Regions from separate parts of the Homo sapiens genome. Here region 1 is linked to region 2. A link means that fine-mapping ties the variant in region 2 to the expression of a gene that starts in the linked region. Tissue or cell type: whole blood. Region 2 holds a variant in brackets; the other region holds the start of a gene. All regions are shown on one strand. Distances are from middle to middle.

What was found. PIP is the estimated chance that this variant, and not a neighbour inherited with it, causes the effect.
Region 1: it holds the start of RELL2, and the variant in region 2 is fine-mapped to the expression of RELL2 in whole blood (TOPMed, PIP above 0.99).

What each region holds. Positions count from the first base shown.
Region 1 is chr5:141,633,131-141,641,236 of GRCh38, forward strand. RELL2 (RELT like 2) reads left to right here and starts at 3,867. Exons shown (of 7, transcript NM_173828.5): 1 at 3,867-5,279; 2 at 5,665-5,730; 3 at 5,825-5,891; 4 at 6,334-6,519; 5 at 6,790-7,165; 6 at 7,282-7,315; 7 at 7,541-7,934. The coding sequence starts at 5,096. The coding sequence ends at 7,314. HDAC3 (histone deacetylase 3) reads right to left here and starts at 3,719. Exons shown (of 15, transcript NM_003883.4): 1 at 3,606-3,719; 2 at 3,418-3,500; 3 at 1,681-1,823. The coding sequence starts at 3,660. It overlaps FCHSD1 (FCH and double SH3 domains 1), which reads right to left. Exons shown (of 20, transcript NM_033449.3): 20 at 6,172-8,106. RefSeq lists enhancers at 1,039-1,168, 4,406-4,455, 5,156-5,275 and silencers at 3,192-3,486, 3,496-3,545, 3,606-3,895.
Region 2 is chr5:141,542,242-141,550,347 of GRCh38, forward strand. The region is part of intron 18 of DIAPH1 (diaphanous related formin 1); the gene reads right to left. Among named protein-coding and RNA genes, the nearest start is that of DIAPH1-AS1, 12 kb to the right of the region's middle. RefSeq lists a silencer at 5,447-5,647. The variant C/T (reference allele first, on the strand shown) is at 4,977.

The sequences.
Region 1 (8,106 bases), 91 kb after region 2:
GCAGAGTAAGCACTCAGTAAATGGTAGCTATCATAAGAAATTCTACAGGATCAACAACCTGGTTTCTTCAAGAAATAAATTCAAGGGGGTGACAGAAAAGCTACAAATTAAAAGTCTTAAGAGACATATCAACCAAATGCACTGTATAGACCTTGTTTAGATCTGGATTTAAATTAGCTACAAAATAATTATGAGACAACTGCAGAAATTTGAATATTGATCCCATATTTGATGACATTAAGGAATCACTGTTAACTTTTTAGGTTTGATAATGATACTATGTTTTTTTAAAAGAGTATCATTTAGAGATACATAATAAAATATTTATGGATAAAAGGATATAACATCTAGGATCTGCTTTAAAACAATCTAACATGAGGGAGTATAGATGAAGTAAGAGTGGCCACTTGCTCAGCTGGGTGCGATGGCTCACGTCTGTAATCCCAGCACTTTTGGAGGCTGAGGCTGGTGGATCACCTGAGGTCAGGAGTTCAAAACCAGCCTGACCAACATAGTGAAACCCCATCTCTACTAAACATACAAAAATTAGCCAGGCATGGTGGCAGGCGCCTGTAATCCCAGCTACTCGGGAGTCTGAGGCATGAGAATCGCTTGAACCCAGGAGGCAGAGGTTGCAGTGAGCCAAGACTGCACCACTGCACTCCAGCCTGGGCTACAGAGTGAGACTCTGTCTCAAAAAAAAAAAAAAAAAAAAAAAGAGTGGCCATTTGCTCATAAGCGTTGAAGCTAGGTGATGGACGTATGGGAGGTCACTGCACTACTTCACTTTCAGAAATTTTTGAAATTTTCCCTAATAAAAAGTTTAAAAACAAAAGTAAGTAGAATTGAGCAACTGGTAGCTGTGATGGTTACTATTTTTTCATGGATATAGAGTAGAGTGTGGCTTATCTTTGTTGTCCACTCTCTTCCCCAGAGGGTCTAACCCTGACTCTTCTATGGATGATACAAGCTCAATGTAAACCTAATGATATCAAACCACTCCTTCGTTGTTTTTTTTGTTTTTTTAACTGCCCATAGCCCTCTTAAGATCCCTTGCTTTTTAAAACACTTTGATAGCTTCCCTCTACTCTACGGGTAAAAACCCCAATTCATAATAGAGCTGTTTGCTTTTAAAAGGTCCTATTTCTTTAGCCTCAATTCAGTTCACCTCCTCTTCATACTCTGCACTTGGCCTTTTTTCTGTTCCTCAAATGAGTCATACTCAGTCCTACCACAGACCCTTAGCACTTGTCCCTACTGCCTGCTATACTTCTCCCCTCACCCTCCAACCATCTTTCATCTGATTACTTCTACTCTTTTTTCAGATCTCAGCTCAATCTTTACTTCCTCTAGGAAGGCCCCACCGACCAGCCACTCCACCAAGCTAAACAATCCTCCACGTATACACTCTCATAATCTGTCATACACCTCCTCTTTATAAGACTTAGCAAAAATACGATATTAAAATTTTGTTTTTGTTCATCACTGCATTCCCAGCACTTAGCACAGGGCCTGCCTAGAACAAGTGACCAATAAATATTTATTGAATAAACAAATAAAATGAATTATGATGCATTGACAAGTAGGCCCCCCTTGAGATCTTCCCACTGCTGCCAAAAGACCTCACTGAAGGGCTTGGCATTAAACTGTTAGACATCAAAACTCCCAGTCCTCCCTCACCAGTCATCGCCTACGTTGAAGGCATTAAGACTCTTGGTGAAGCCTTGCATATTGGTGGGGCTGACTCTCTGCAGGAAGTCAATGTAGTCCTCGGAGTGGAAGCGGCACATGTCATGTTGGGAGGCCTGGTATGGCTTGAAGACCTCGGGATGGAGACACAAGATGAACCCAGGCAGGGTCAGCCCCACTCCACAGGCTCAGACCACCCATACTGAACCCAGTCCTGGAGACTATATGAAGCCAAACATAGCATTCCCCTCATCCCACAATCCTTAAGTCAGTAGAGAGACTCCGATTAACCAGGTAAGTTATTACAAATGAGCCCCCTGAAGACCACTTCTTTTCCTTTCCACCTCCAGCTCAGCCTATCGTACCTTCTCAACTTTGAGCCCTGATCCACCTGCCCTGTTCCTTGGAATCTCCTATTCCCAGTTCTCTCCATGCTCATCTCCTCCCCCAAGCTCTGATTCTGTCCTCTTTCCTCTGGATTCTTCTTTCTGGAGTCAAATATATGGGATATATGTCAACTTTCTAATTAAAATCAAAGATTTATTATCTTTGGAAGGTCAGGGGGATGTGTCACACCTCTTTGAAAACTGCACAAGAAAGAGCTTTTCTTCTCCCAGAAAATGCACACAGGTACATACAGGCAAACAATCTCAAGGGATATAGATTCCTGCACTAACATCACCTCAGTCTTTTCTATGACCAGTCCATTTGTCTGTGCCTTGGCACAAGCAATGAACATTCATTCATATTGTTCACTAGTTTCCCTAGCAACACATAAAGCCTGGGTTTAGCTGTTTTGTCTTATTTTTTCTTTTGAGACAAGGTCCTCCCTGTCAACTCAGGCTGCTGATCATAGATCACTGTAACTTTAAACTCCTGGGCCCAAGCCATCCTCTCGCCTCGGCCTCCCAAGTAGTTGGGACTACAGGCACACCCACCGCACATGGCTACTTTTTTTATTTTTATTTTTTGTAGATGTGGGTCCCACTGTGGCCCAAGCTGGTCTCCAACTCCTGGCCTCAAGCGATCCCCCCCATTTCAACCTCCCAAAGTGCTGGGATTACAGGCATGGGCCACCACGCCTGGCGTGGCTTAACTGTTACTATCCCATATCACAGCCATAAATTCCAAGCTGGGAAGACAGCATGTGTATGTCTGGTAGATGAAAAACTGGATAGCGATTAAGCAGAACCATGTAGAGGTATTCCAGGCTGAAAAAGGAATATCTAAAATATCGCCTCTGTTCCACACGCACATACACATTTACAAAGACGGCAGCATCGTTCCACCCTGGAGCCCTAGCTCCTTGGAGGTAAAGAAAGGTGGTAAAAGAGGAGTGGGAACTGAGGGTAAACCTCACACCCTGATACAGTGATATCCGCTCCCCTAACCCTAATTCCTGAGGCCAAGGCCCTATCCACACTCTAAAATGCAGAGGAGGAACACACCTTCTGTCTTCAAACCAGCCCCACATCACGCTAACCCTAGGCCAAGGGCTAGTGTGCCTACAGTCAGAGGGTGGCCGACCTGAGGTGAGAAAGTACTTTCCATTAAGCAGAGGACGCCACCCCCAACACCCTGCACTTTCAAGGTACTCCTGGTGACTTCTATCCAGCTCCCCGATACTCTAGGGGCGGGTCGCACTTCATGCACTCAGTCCAGCCCACCTATCCCTACGGCCACAGCTCGCCCCACCCCCCAACCCCCGGCCGAGGCGGCGGAACTCACGATCATCTTCTTATAGAGACCGTAATGCAGGACCAGGCTATGGGTCAATGCCAGGCGATGGGGCTTCATAGGGTGTCCAGCTCCTGGGGGTGGGGAGAAGAGAGTTCGTCAGCTCTCACCCCTGGAGTTGCAACCCCGCCTCAAAACCTCCGTGTCCCAACCCCTCATGCATATCCCTGTTTCCTCACCGTAGTGGAAGTTGCCCACGTCGGGGTCGTAGAAATAGGCCACGGTCTTGGCCATGGTGCCGGCGGGAGCAGGCCCCGCACCTCCGCCGCCCGCCGCCCGCGGCCGCCGCCAGCCCCTCCCCGGCCGTGCGTGCTGCGCAAGCACGTAGCCGGCCTCTGCGGAACTGGGCGTTGCGGCCCCGCCTCCATCCACACCCAGGCCACGCCCCCAGGGGAGCTCCGCCCCTCGCCCGGCTCAGCTCTCCCGGTATCTGGGGCTTTGAGCGTCCCGGGTTGGGCAGGGAACTGGCAGCATAGCTCCTAGGATGCGAGGGCCATTTGTCTCCGGCCGGGGGTCAGATCCTCGGGAAGCCGAGCCATCCCATCCAGCCGCTTGCCCCAAACCGGGCGCAGGCCGTGGTCACTTCTCTAGGAAGCTCCGAAGATCCCGCCACTCCGTCCCTCAAAGGTGCGGAAAGCCGGCTTCCCCCAGCCCTCGGAGAAGATTCCTGACTCTCCGCTCGGTCGGGGCATCTGAGGGCAGGAGCTGCGCCAGGCGTACCGGATAGACCAGTGGACAACACCCACGCCGGACCGCCTGTCCCCTACCCGGACCCAGACTCGGCGCCGCACATTGCCCCGGGGGGGCCCGGCGCAGTCACGCGCGCGCAGAGCTCACGCTCTCCGCCCCGCACACCTGCGCTCCGCCCCCTGGTCCTGGGCCCGCGACGGGTGAAGGCATTTGGGAAGCCAGGGCGGCTGCGGAGGCGATCTCCCTGACCCAGGGCCGGAGTTGCCCGGAGCCTGCCACCGCTCTCAGCCAGCCCGCATCCTTCTCTGTTCTTCCCTCCCCCCGCCTGCCACGGCGCGGGTATCCGCAGCCACAGCCCGGGGCCGGTGAGGCGGCGAAGGGGGAGGGGAGGAATCAAGGGATGAGCGCCGGAAGGGCGTCGGGGGCCCTGAGCCGCACTAGGACGCCCCTGGAGCCGGAACCCCAGCAGAAGCCGGAACCAGAACCAAATCACCGGTACCGGGTCGGCCAGGTGGTCAGGGTGGGAGAAACCAAAAAGGGAGAGGGGTGCGGGAGTACTGAGAGGAAGGGGCTGCAGAGGCCTGGCTCAGGCCGGCGTGGAGGAGGTGCGGGCGCTGACTCAGGCAGGATTTCTGCTCCCGCCGCCTAAGAATGCCGTCCCATCTCGTGCTGCAGTGTCCTTGGGAGGGACAGAAGCGCGAACAAGCTGGAAAGGGGAACGCTCGGGGCGTCGGGGAAGCGGGACCAGGGTCGTGGTAGAGAGCTTGCGTTGCCGCTGACCTCTTGCCGAAAGGCGAAACAGCACTCCTGGCCCGGACAGCTCCCTGGTTGGGTAGGGGGTGGGGCCGGACCTCAGCCGGACGTCTTAGACGTGCTTGTTTCAGATCCTGAGGACGGCATTCCTACCCCTCCCCCATTCCCAGCTGCAGCCCCCTAAACCCAGGAGGCGCCCTGGCCCGCGCTCGCCCCCCAGGGCCTCATGTCGGAACCACAGCCTGACCTGGAACCGCCCCAACATGGGCTATATATGCTCTTCCTGCTTGTGCTGGTCTTCTTCCTCATGGGCCTGGTAGGCTTCATGATCTGCCACGTGCTCAAGAAGAAGGGCTACCGCTGCCGCACGTCGAGGGGCTCTGAGCCTGACGATGCCCAGCTTCAGCCCCGTGAGTGAGGAGCCTGGAACCCTGGCTCAGTCACCTTTCACCCTTCTCCCCACACCTCTGCCTCCCTGACCAACAGACCCAGGCCAAATCCTGATCAAACCTGCTCAGGAAGCCTAGTGATGCACTCTTGAGTTAGCAAGTGGGGTGACACCACTCTGAAAGCAAAACTAGAGAAAGCAGCATGGGCAGGAACGGTCCTCTGGATGGTAGTCTTGGGCTTGCATTGGTGTCCCCATCTTTTCTGGTCCCTGAAATGCTGAGGTCCAGCATGATAGCAAGTAGGTAAAAGGGTATGTCCTAAGCAATAAATGATGGGAGCCACCAGGTAATATTCCCCCAAAGCTGACTCATTCCTGCTTCCTTGCCAATCTCTTTCATCCTTCAGCTGAGGACGATGACATGAATGAGGACACAGTAGAGAGGATTGTTCGCTGCATCATCCAGAATGAAGGTGGGTCTAGCATAGCCCCTTGCTCCCTCTTCTCCAACCTTCTCTTGCCCTGACCTCCACCTCCACTGACTCCCTCTTTTCCTTCTTCCCTCAGCCAATGCTGAGGCCTTGAAGGAGATGCTGGGGGACAGTGAAGGAGAAGGGACAGTGCAGCTGTCCAGGTGAGCTGGAAACAAGGGCCAGCATGACTTAGCTTGCCTTGGAGAGTATCCTCTCCTCCAGCACAATCCTCTCCCAGCCTCCTTGCATGTATGGGGTTGGGGGAAGGGCAAAGCTGGCTAACTTATAGGAAGAAAGTTGTTTTGTAGAAATCGCGATTCCTTCAAACCATCTCTCTCATCTAGATATCATCAAGCCTAACATTCACCTCTAGTGCCACTCCTTTGGGTTAAGCAGTGTTCTTTTTAGCAAACAGCCCTGGGAGGAAGAACATATGGTCACTAACATCTTAATATTGAGTTTATTAGATAAAGACAAGAAAAAATGGGGCTTGGGGAAATTGGGGCTTCTGGGGTTTTAAGGAGCATGCTGAAAGAACGTAAGAAACAAAACATGAAGGGAAATGGAAATGTTACCCTCACTCCCCTCCTCCCTGCTGTCCAGTGTGGATGCCACCTCCAGCCTGCAGGACGGAGCCCCCTCCCATCATCACACAGTGCACCTGGGCTCTGCAGCCCCTTGCCTCCATTGCAGCCGCAGCAAGAGGCCTCCACTTGTCCGTCAGGGACGCTCCAAGGAAGGAAAAAGCCGCCCCCGGACAGGGGAGACCACTGTGTTCTCTGTGGGCAGGTGGGGCAGGTGCTCCAGGGAAAGGGGGGCTGAGGTAGGGGGCCCAGTGATCAGGCACCTGATCCCAAAAGTGGGCCTTGGCTCTTTCCTCCTGGACTGGGAGCTCCGGCAGAAGTCAGGCTACACAATGTGCCCCACAATCTGAGAAGGCCTCCCCTACCTTAGGCCAGAGGGAAGTAGCCACCAAACTCAGGATGTCCCTGGTCAGAGGGGAGGGCCAAGCAGCCTCTGAGTTGTGGTCCTAAACCCCAGTGTTCCCTCCCCTCCCAGGTTCCGGGTGACACACATTGAGAAGCGCTATGGACTGCACGAACACCGTGATGGCTCCCCCACAGACAGGAGCTGGGGCTCTGGTGGGGGACAGGACCCAGGGGGTGGTCAGGGGTCTGGGGGAGGGCAGCCCAAGGCAGGGATGCCTGCCATGGAGAGGCTGCCCCCTGAGAGGCCACAGCCCCAGGTCCTAGCCAGCCCCCCAGTACAGAATGGAGGACTCAGGGACAGCAGCCTAACCCCTCGTGCACTTGAAGGGAACCCCAGAGCTTCTGCAGAGCCAACACTGAGGGCCGGAGGGAGGGGCCCAAGCCCAGGGCTGCCCACTCAAGAGGCAAATGGGCAGCCAAGCAAACCAGACACTTCTGATCACCAGGTAGGAAAACACAGCCGGGACTGCACTGGGCTGGGCTCTTATTGCTCTCTACTCTGGGGGGCACTGATAGGACCTACTCCTGGTCTCTCATTGTTGACCCCTCCCCTTTCTCTCAGGTGTCTCTACCACAGGGAGCAGGGAGTATGTGAGGTGAGTCTGCCTGAGCCCTAAATGAGGTAATCTCATCTTCCCATCACCTACTTAAACTATTTAAGCCTTTCGGCTCCCTGAACCCCCCGAGTAAACTGCAGGCTTAGCCTTTGCTATAAATCCCTTGGTTTGGTGGTGGAGGTAGGGAAGGTCCTGGAGCCCCAGGGGAAAAGCTGGACACAGCTTGAACAGGAAGCAACAGTGTTATTCTTCCTCTTCTCCAAGTCTCCTTCATTGTGCTGATGGACTACCAGCTGGCAGGGCCAGGGGGTGGGTGGGCGTGAAAGCCCTCCCCTCCACTGGACAGCACTGCCCCCCAGCTGAGGGACCAGCTCTACTTCCACCTGGAGTTGCACAGTCTCAGGCTGGGGGCCTCAGGAGAGGTCACAGCCCCTCAGTCTCTTCTCCTTCCCCTGCCTGCAACAGGCTGCCTGCCCCGCCTTCCCCAACACCTCGCTCCATATGATAGAGCGTGGCAGCTGGGAGCAGGCCCCTGCCCGTGGTGGGCCCCTAAAGCAATAGCACCGTAGGCCCCCTGCCCTCTTAGCACAAGAGGCCCAGGCCCTGGCCTGGCCTTCGTGCCCTTTATTCATTGTCAATAAATCCGCTCAGACCATTACAGCTGCTTCGCATCCTGGCTCCAGCTCCTGATTCCCAAGGCCTGTTCCTCTCCCCAGCCCAACCCCAGTGACCCTGGCATCCAGAGTGGGGTGGGTCATGGAGCCAGGGTGGGGAAAGAGGTGGGCCAGAACTACTAGAGACCTTGATGGATGGTTTCCAGCCCCAGAGAT
Region 2 (8,106 bases):
GCCAACATGGTGAAATGCCATTTCTACTAAAAATACAAAAAATTAGCTGGGCATGGTGGCGCATGCCTGTAATCCCAGCTACTCGGGAGGCTGAGGCAAGAGAATCACTTGAACCCAGGAGGCAGAGGTTGCAGTGAGCCAAGATCGTGCCACTACACTCTGGACTGGGCAACAGAGTGGGACTCTGTCTTGGGAAAAAAAAAAAAAAGAAATTGTCTGTCTGTCAATTAATGCATAAACAAACTGTGGCATATGCAATGGAATATTATTCTGCCATAAAAAGTAATGAGCTACTGATAACATGATACAATGTGGAGAATTCTCAAAAACATCATGCTAAAGTGAAAGAAGCCAGACACAAAAGTCACATATATTATTTCACTTATATGAAATATTCAGAAGAGGTAAATCTATAGAGACACACATAGACTGGTGATTGTTAGGAGCTAAAGGGATGGAGGAATGAGGAGCAACTGCTTAAAGTGTAAAGGATTTCTTTTGGGAGTGATGAAAATGTTTTGGAACTGGATAGATATGATGGTTGTACATTATGAGTATACCAAATGCCACTAAATTGCTTGCTCTAAAATGGTTAATTTTATGTTGTGTGAATTTCATCTCAATAAAATTGTTTATTGTCTTACATGTTTAAAAACTAATTCAATTGGTGAAACTTGAATATGGATTGTATATTAGATAACAGTATCCTATCAATGATAAATTTTCTAAATGTGATAATTACACTGTGATTATAGAACTTGTATTTAGAAGATGCATGCTGAAGAATTTAAGGGTAAAAGGTCATGCTGTTGGTACTTCATCTCAGTTTAGTTACAAAAAAAAAAAAAGAAAATGTTCATAGTAGCATTATTTATAATAGCCAAAAAGTGGAAACAATCCTAATGTCCATCAACTGATGAATGGAAAAAACAAAATGTGGTGTCATAAAAAGGAATGAAGTGCTAATACATGCTGCAACACGAACCTTGCAAGCATCATGATTAGTGAAAGAAGCCAGACACAAAGGGCACATACTTTATTAATTATATTGACACAACATGTCCATGACAGGCAAATCCATATGATAGTAAGTAAATTAGCAGATGCCAAGTTGGGTGGAATGGGAAGTAGGAAGTGGCTGCTAGTGGATTCAGGGTTTCTTGTAAGCGTGATAAGAATGCTGTGGAATTAGATAGTGGTAATGGCTGGACAACTTTCTGAATACAGACTATCCCTGACTTAAGATAATTCAACCTAACAATTTTTTTTAGCTTATGATGGTGCAAAAGCCATATGCATTCAGTAGAAATTGTACTTCAAATTTTGATTCAAAATTCATTATCAACATTATAAAACTGGCTTTGCGTTACATTATTTTGTCCAATTGTAAGCTAATATAAGTGTCCCGAGCATGTTTAAGGTAGGCTAGGCTAAGAAAGATGTTTGGTAAGTTAGGTGTTATTAAATGCATTCCAACTTAACAATATTTTCGACTCACAATGGCTTTCAGGACATAATTCTATTGTAAGTCAAGGAGCATCTGTACACACACAAAAAATGGGATTGTATACTTTAAAGATGAATTTTATCATATGTGAATTATATGTCAATACAATCAATAGATAAATGTATACATGCATATAGACAAGCATGCATCTATACAACGGACCATAGAACTAAATGGAAAACCTAAAACTACCAAACATCTAGAAGAGAACAGGGGAAAATCTTCACAGCTTTGAGGTGGTAATAATTTCTCAGGTAAGACACAAAAAAAAGTATAAATCGGCCGGGCGCGGTGGCTCACGCCTGTAATCCCAGCACTTTGGGAGGCTGAGGCAGACAGATCACAAGGTCAGGAGATCGAGACCATCCTGGCTAACACGGTGAAACCCTGTCTCTAGTAAAAATACAAAAAATTAGCCGGGCGTGGTGGCGGGCACCTGTAGTCCCAGCTACTCGGGAGGCTGAGGCAGGAGAATGGTGTGAAACTGGGAAGTGGAGCTTGCAGTGAGCTGAGATGGCACCACTGCACTCCAGCCTGGGCGACAAGAGTGAGACTCCATCTCAAAAAAATAAAAATAAAAATAAAGAAAGAAAAGAATACAAAACATAAAAAGAAAAATTGATGAAGCAGACTTCATCAAAATTAAAAACTTCTGTTCTTTTGAAGCCATTATTAAGAAATGAGAAGACAAGATTGGGAGAAAATATCTGCAAAACACTTATCCGATAAAGAACTAGTATACCCAACACAGATTAAAAAGTTATGACTAGATCATAAGAAAACAACCCAATTTTAAAAAATGGACAGATTTGGAAAGTCACTTTACCAAAGAAGATATACAGATGGCAAATTAAGCACAGAGAAAGCTGCTCAATATCATCAGTAAGTCATGAAAACTATGTACTAGGAATTAAACTCATTAGGAATTAAAACTACAAAGTCTAACCTTTTAAAATCACTAAAAACAAAACCAAACAAAACTTATGAGACTTAAGTGTTGGTGAGGATGCAAAGCATTTGCAACTCTCATACATTGCTAGTGGAAATGAAAAATGGTACAGCCACTTTGGAAAACAGTTTGGCAGTTTCTTATACAGTTAAACATACATTTACCATACCATATGACCCAACAATCTCATCCCTAGGTGTTTATCCCTCCAAAATGAAAATATATTTGTCTAGACAAAATCCTGTATGCAAACGTTTCTATCAGCTTTATTCATAATTGCCAAAAACTGGATACAACCCAGATGTCCATCAGCCAGTGAATGGACATAATGGACATTATGCTAAAATCAAAGAATCCAGACTGAAAAGGCTACTTAGTGTATGATTCTACTTATATGACAGTCTGAAAAAGACACAACTGTCAGAAAATAGATCAGTGGTATGCCAGGGTTTGGCAATAAGGAGGAGGACTGACAAATGAACATGAAGGAACTTTTTGGAGTGACTGTGATTATATGGCCGTATACATTTGTCAGCCATATAATACTGTACACATAAAAAGGGTGAATTTTACTATATATAAATTATATCTCAGCAAACCTGACTAAACAAATTGTATCTTCAAGGCCAATACAGTAGGATAAAGCTAAAATAACTATAATAGTGTGAGAACAGCTGGACACAGTGGCTCATGCCTGTAATCCCAGCACTTTGGAAGGACAAGTGGTAGGACTGCTTGAGTCCAGGAGCTCGAGACCAGCCTAGGCGACACAGTCTGTCTCTACAAGAAATAAAAAGTTAGTCAGGCATGGTGGCACATGCTTATAGTCCCAGCTGCTTAGGAAGCTGAGGTAGGAGGATCCCCTGAGCCCAGAAGGCTGAGGCTGCTGTGAGCTGTGATTATGCCACTGTACTCAGCCTGGGCAACAGAATGAGACCCTGTCTCAGAAAAAAAGCAACAACAAAAAACAGTGTGAGATGATGAGAGAAGAACACATTAAGCAAATAAAGAAATAAAAGAAATTCCATAAACAGACATATATTTTAGGCTTTGTGGACCATATATTAATAGTTTCTGTTGCAACTACTCAACTCTGCCGGCATAATATGAAAATAGTCATTGACAATGACAATAGAATGGCTGTGTTCCAATAAAACCTTATTAACAAAACATGTTGGCCGTAGTTTGCTGACTCCTGGTCTAACCAATAGTGTTGGGACGACTGGCTTTCCATTTTAAAGGAATATAGTAAGATCCTAATTTTATGATATTCACAAAACTAAATTCTAGATACATTAAAAATCTAACTATAAAAAACAGAAATATAATCTTGAATAAATGAAAACTTCCCTAAGAATAACAAAAAATCAAGATGGTATAAAGTAAAACATATGAGACTCTGGGGCCGGGCACAGTGGCTCATGCCTGTATCCCAGCACTTTGGGAGGCTGAGGTGGGCAGATCACCTGAGGTCAGGAGTTTGAGCGCAGCCTGGCCAACATGGCGAAACCCTGTCTCTACTAAAACTACAAAAATTAGCCAGGCATGGTGGCGCATGCCTGTAATCCCAGCTACTCGGGAGGCTGAGGCAGGATAACTGCTTGAACTCAGGAGGCAGAGGCTGAAGTGAGCCAAAACTCCGTCTCAAAAAACAAACAAACAAACAAAATATGAGACCAGCCAGGCGTGGTGGCTCACACCTGTAATCACAGCACTTTAGGAGGCCGAGGCAGGTGGATCACGAGGTCAGGAGTTCAAGACCAGCCTGCCCAACGTGGTGAAACCCCGTCTCTACTAAAAATACAAAAATGAGTCGGGCATGATGGCAGGTGCCTGTAATCCCAGCTACTTGAGAGGCTGAAGCAGGAGAATTGATTGAACCCGAGAGGTGGAAGTTGCTGTGAGCTGAGATCGTGCCACTGCACTCCAGCCTGGGCGACAGAATGAGACTCTGAAAAAAAAAAGAAAAAAAAAAAAAGAGACTCTCCTCCTTAAGCTGGGAGCACAAAAGGCTATATCCTTAAAGTTGAATAAAACAGGCTCACAGCTGAAAGCCTTAGAAAGACTACACTCTAGGAACAGGGTGAAAGAGGTAGATCAAGCTTTTCCAAAACCACAACCACGTCTTGGCACAGCTCAATTCCTGACTGGATTAACACAATCAGCCTCTACTATTATCTGTCTAGAGAGGAAAGTGTGACTTCTCTTTTCAGAGAAAAGTAACATCATCTGGAGTTTCCACCATTGTTATATGCAATGCCTGGGCATTTAATCAAAATTACTAGTAATGTCAAAAGGGAGGATCATTTGCCCAAAGTTCAAGGAACAAACCAATAGGAACAGATTCACATACAACTCAGACATTACAGTTTCCCAAAAAGGACTTTAAAATCACTCTGGTTAACATGTTCTGGAATATAGAGGAAAAAATAAAAATAAATGAAGACGGAGAAGTTCATCAGAGAAGTAGAATTTACTTTTAAAAAATCTATGAACATTCAGCCAGGCGCGGTAATCCCG[C/T]ACTTTGGGAGGCCAAGGCGGGCGGATCATGAGGTCAGGAGATCAAGACCATCCTGGTTAACACGGTGAAACCCCATCTCTACTTAAAATACAAAAAATTGGCCAGGCACGGTGGCAGGTGCCTGTAGTCCCAGCTACTCGGGAGGCTGAGGCAGGAGAATGGTGTGAACCCAGGAGACGGAGCTTGCAGTGAGCCAAGATCGCGGCACTGCACTCCAGCCTGGGCGACAGAGACTCCGCCTCAAAAATAAATAAATAAAAATAAAAAATAAAAATCTATGAATATTCTACAACTAAAAAATATTAATATAATTGAAATTAAAAGCTCAACAGATGGGTTTAACAGTAGACATAGTAGAAATGGGTGAACTGGAAGACAGTAACAAAGATCCAAACTAAAAGCACAGAGGTTAAAAATGGTAAGAATGAAAAAGAATGTAATGGACAAGTGAGACACATTGAAAAGGCCAATGGTCCAACATATGTATAACTGGAGGCCCAGAAAGAGAAGAAAAATTGGACAGGAGCAAGATTTGAAGAGAAAATAGTTGTGTATTTTTCAGAAGTGATGAAAGCCTTCAACATACAGAATCAAGCAGCTCAGAGAAACTCAAGTATAAATACAAAGAAAACCACACCGTGGCATATCATCATAGTAAAACTGCTAAAAATCAGAGTTAAAAAAAAAATCCTTGCTGGGTGTGGTGATCCAGATGATTCACACCTGTAATCCACTTTGAGAGGCTAATGTGCGTGGATTCCTTGAGCCCAGGAGTTTGAGACCAACCCAGGCAACACAGTGAGACTCCATCTTTACAAAACAACTAAAAAATTAGCTGGATGCGGTGGTGCACGCTTGTAGTCCTAGCTTCTCAGGAAGCTGAGGTAGGAGGCTCACTTAAGCCTGGGAGCTCAAGGCTACCATGAGCTATGATTGCGCCACTCCACTCCAGCCTGGGCGACAGAGCAAGATCTTGTTTCAAAAAAAAAAACCTCAAAATAGCAGGGGGTGGAACATATTATCTTCAAATGAAAAACAATAAGACTGACAGTGGAATTCTTTAAAAAAAAAAAAAAGAAAAAACATCTTCCAAAATATGGATGAAATAAAGATATATCCACAAAAAAACACAATTCATTAGCAGCAGACCTGAACTAATATAGTAAAGGGAGTATTTATTCAGGCAGAAGAAAGAAAAAATTATCCGAAGGAAATACAAAAATGTAGACAGGAAGCAAAAACACTAGAAAGGTGTTTCTAAGTGACTACTGGTATTACAAAGTAACAGTAAAAATATTTGTGGGGTTTAAAGCACCTACAGAATCAAACTGCATGACACCAGTAACTCAAAAGGAAGGTACATAACAGAGCTAAAATGTTCCAGCCTGGGCAATAAGGGCAATAAGGTTGAGACCCTGTCTCTACAAAAAGTACAAAAATTAGCAAGCATGGTGATGTGTGCCTGTAGTCCCAGTTACTTGGGAGGCTCAGGTGGGAGAATCACCTAAGCCCGAGGAGGCTGAGGCTGCAGTGAGCCACAATCATGCCACTGTACTCCAGCCTGGGTGACAAAGTGAGACCCTGCCTCAAAAAAGAAAAATAAAAAAAGAAATGTTGTAAAGTTCTAGCATTATCTAGAGGGTAGTAAAATTATAATTTGTATTAGACTATCATAAGTCAAGTATGTATATTGTAATTTTTAAGATACTCACTAGGAGGATAGTAAAAAGGTATATAACGACAGGGGAAATGTGAAATAATACAGTTCTAAATTAATCCGTAAGAGGGCAAAAACAGAAAAAAGAACATAAATCATGAAAATCAAACAGAAAACAAATAGAAATAGGGTATATATCAACTCAAATGGATTAAATATATGAAAAGACTAAAACTGTCAGACTGGAGTTACAAAACATACTAAATATGTGCTGCTTATAAGGGACACACCTTAAATAAAGACACAGATATATTGAGAGTAAAATAGTGGAAGAAGATGTACTAATCAAAAGAACAATAATCAAGAGAAAACTGGTGTAGCTATACTAGTATCAGATAGAGATATCATCTCTAATAACTGGCATGATACATACATTTCATAATAAAGGGTCAATCCTTGAGGAAAATATAATAATTCTAAATCTAAAAATATCCAATAATTTAGTTTTAAAATATATAAAGTTAAAAATTGAGTGAACTAAAGGCTGAAAAAGACAAATCCATAACCACAGTGGAAGAATTAACACCCGTCACACAATACTAATAAAACAAGCAGATAAAAACTTGGAAAGGACGTAGAAAATCTGACCATATCTAACAAAGTTAACTGACATGTTAGAACAATGTACCCAATAATACTAACATATCTTTTTTCATATGTATACAGCATATTTGCCAAAATTTACCATATATGGGTAAAAGCAAGCCTCAACAAATTTCAAAGGATAGAAATAATTCAAAGTACTAAGCTATCAGTAAAAAGATAACCAAAAAATACCCAATTATTTGGATATTAAGCAAATATATAAATAACTCTGGAGTCAGGTAAGAAATCACAAAATAGAAAAAAATATTTTGAATGGAATGAAATCAACACATCACATGCAACAAATGGAACTCATAAAAAGCACAAAATAAGACGGTAGATTTAAACCTCAATATTTCAGTAATTACATTAAATGTAAACAGACTACACACTCTGTATTGGTTGAGACCAATGGTGTCAAGTGGATTAAAAAACAAGAGTCCAAGGATATGCTGTTTATGAGAAACATCTAGAGCAAGGATACAGAAAGGAAGAAAAAGTACAGCTATACCAGGCAAATTCTAACTAGAAGAAAGTTGTCCAAGTTGCATTCACATCAGACGAAAATAGTCTTTAAGGTAACAAAAAGCAGTATAAAAGATAAAGAGGGACTTTCTATACTGATTAAAAAAAAAAGTTTAGTTCATCAGGAAAATGCAGGATTTTTAAATTTGTATGTACCTAATAACATTATCTTAAGATAAATAAAGCACCAAAAATGTATAACCTGAATCTAATAATGAGGACACGAGACAAATCCAAACTGATGGACACGTTAAGGTCACAAAAAATAAAAACTGAGGAACTATAACAAAGAGTCTGACTTC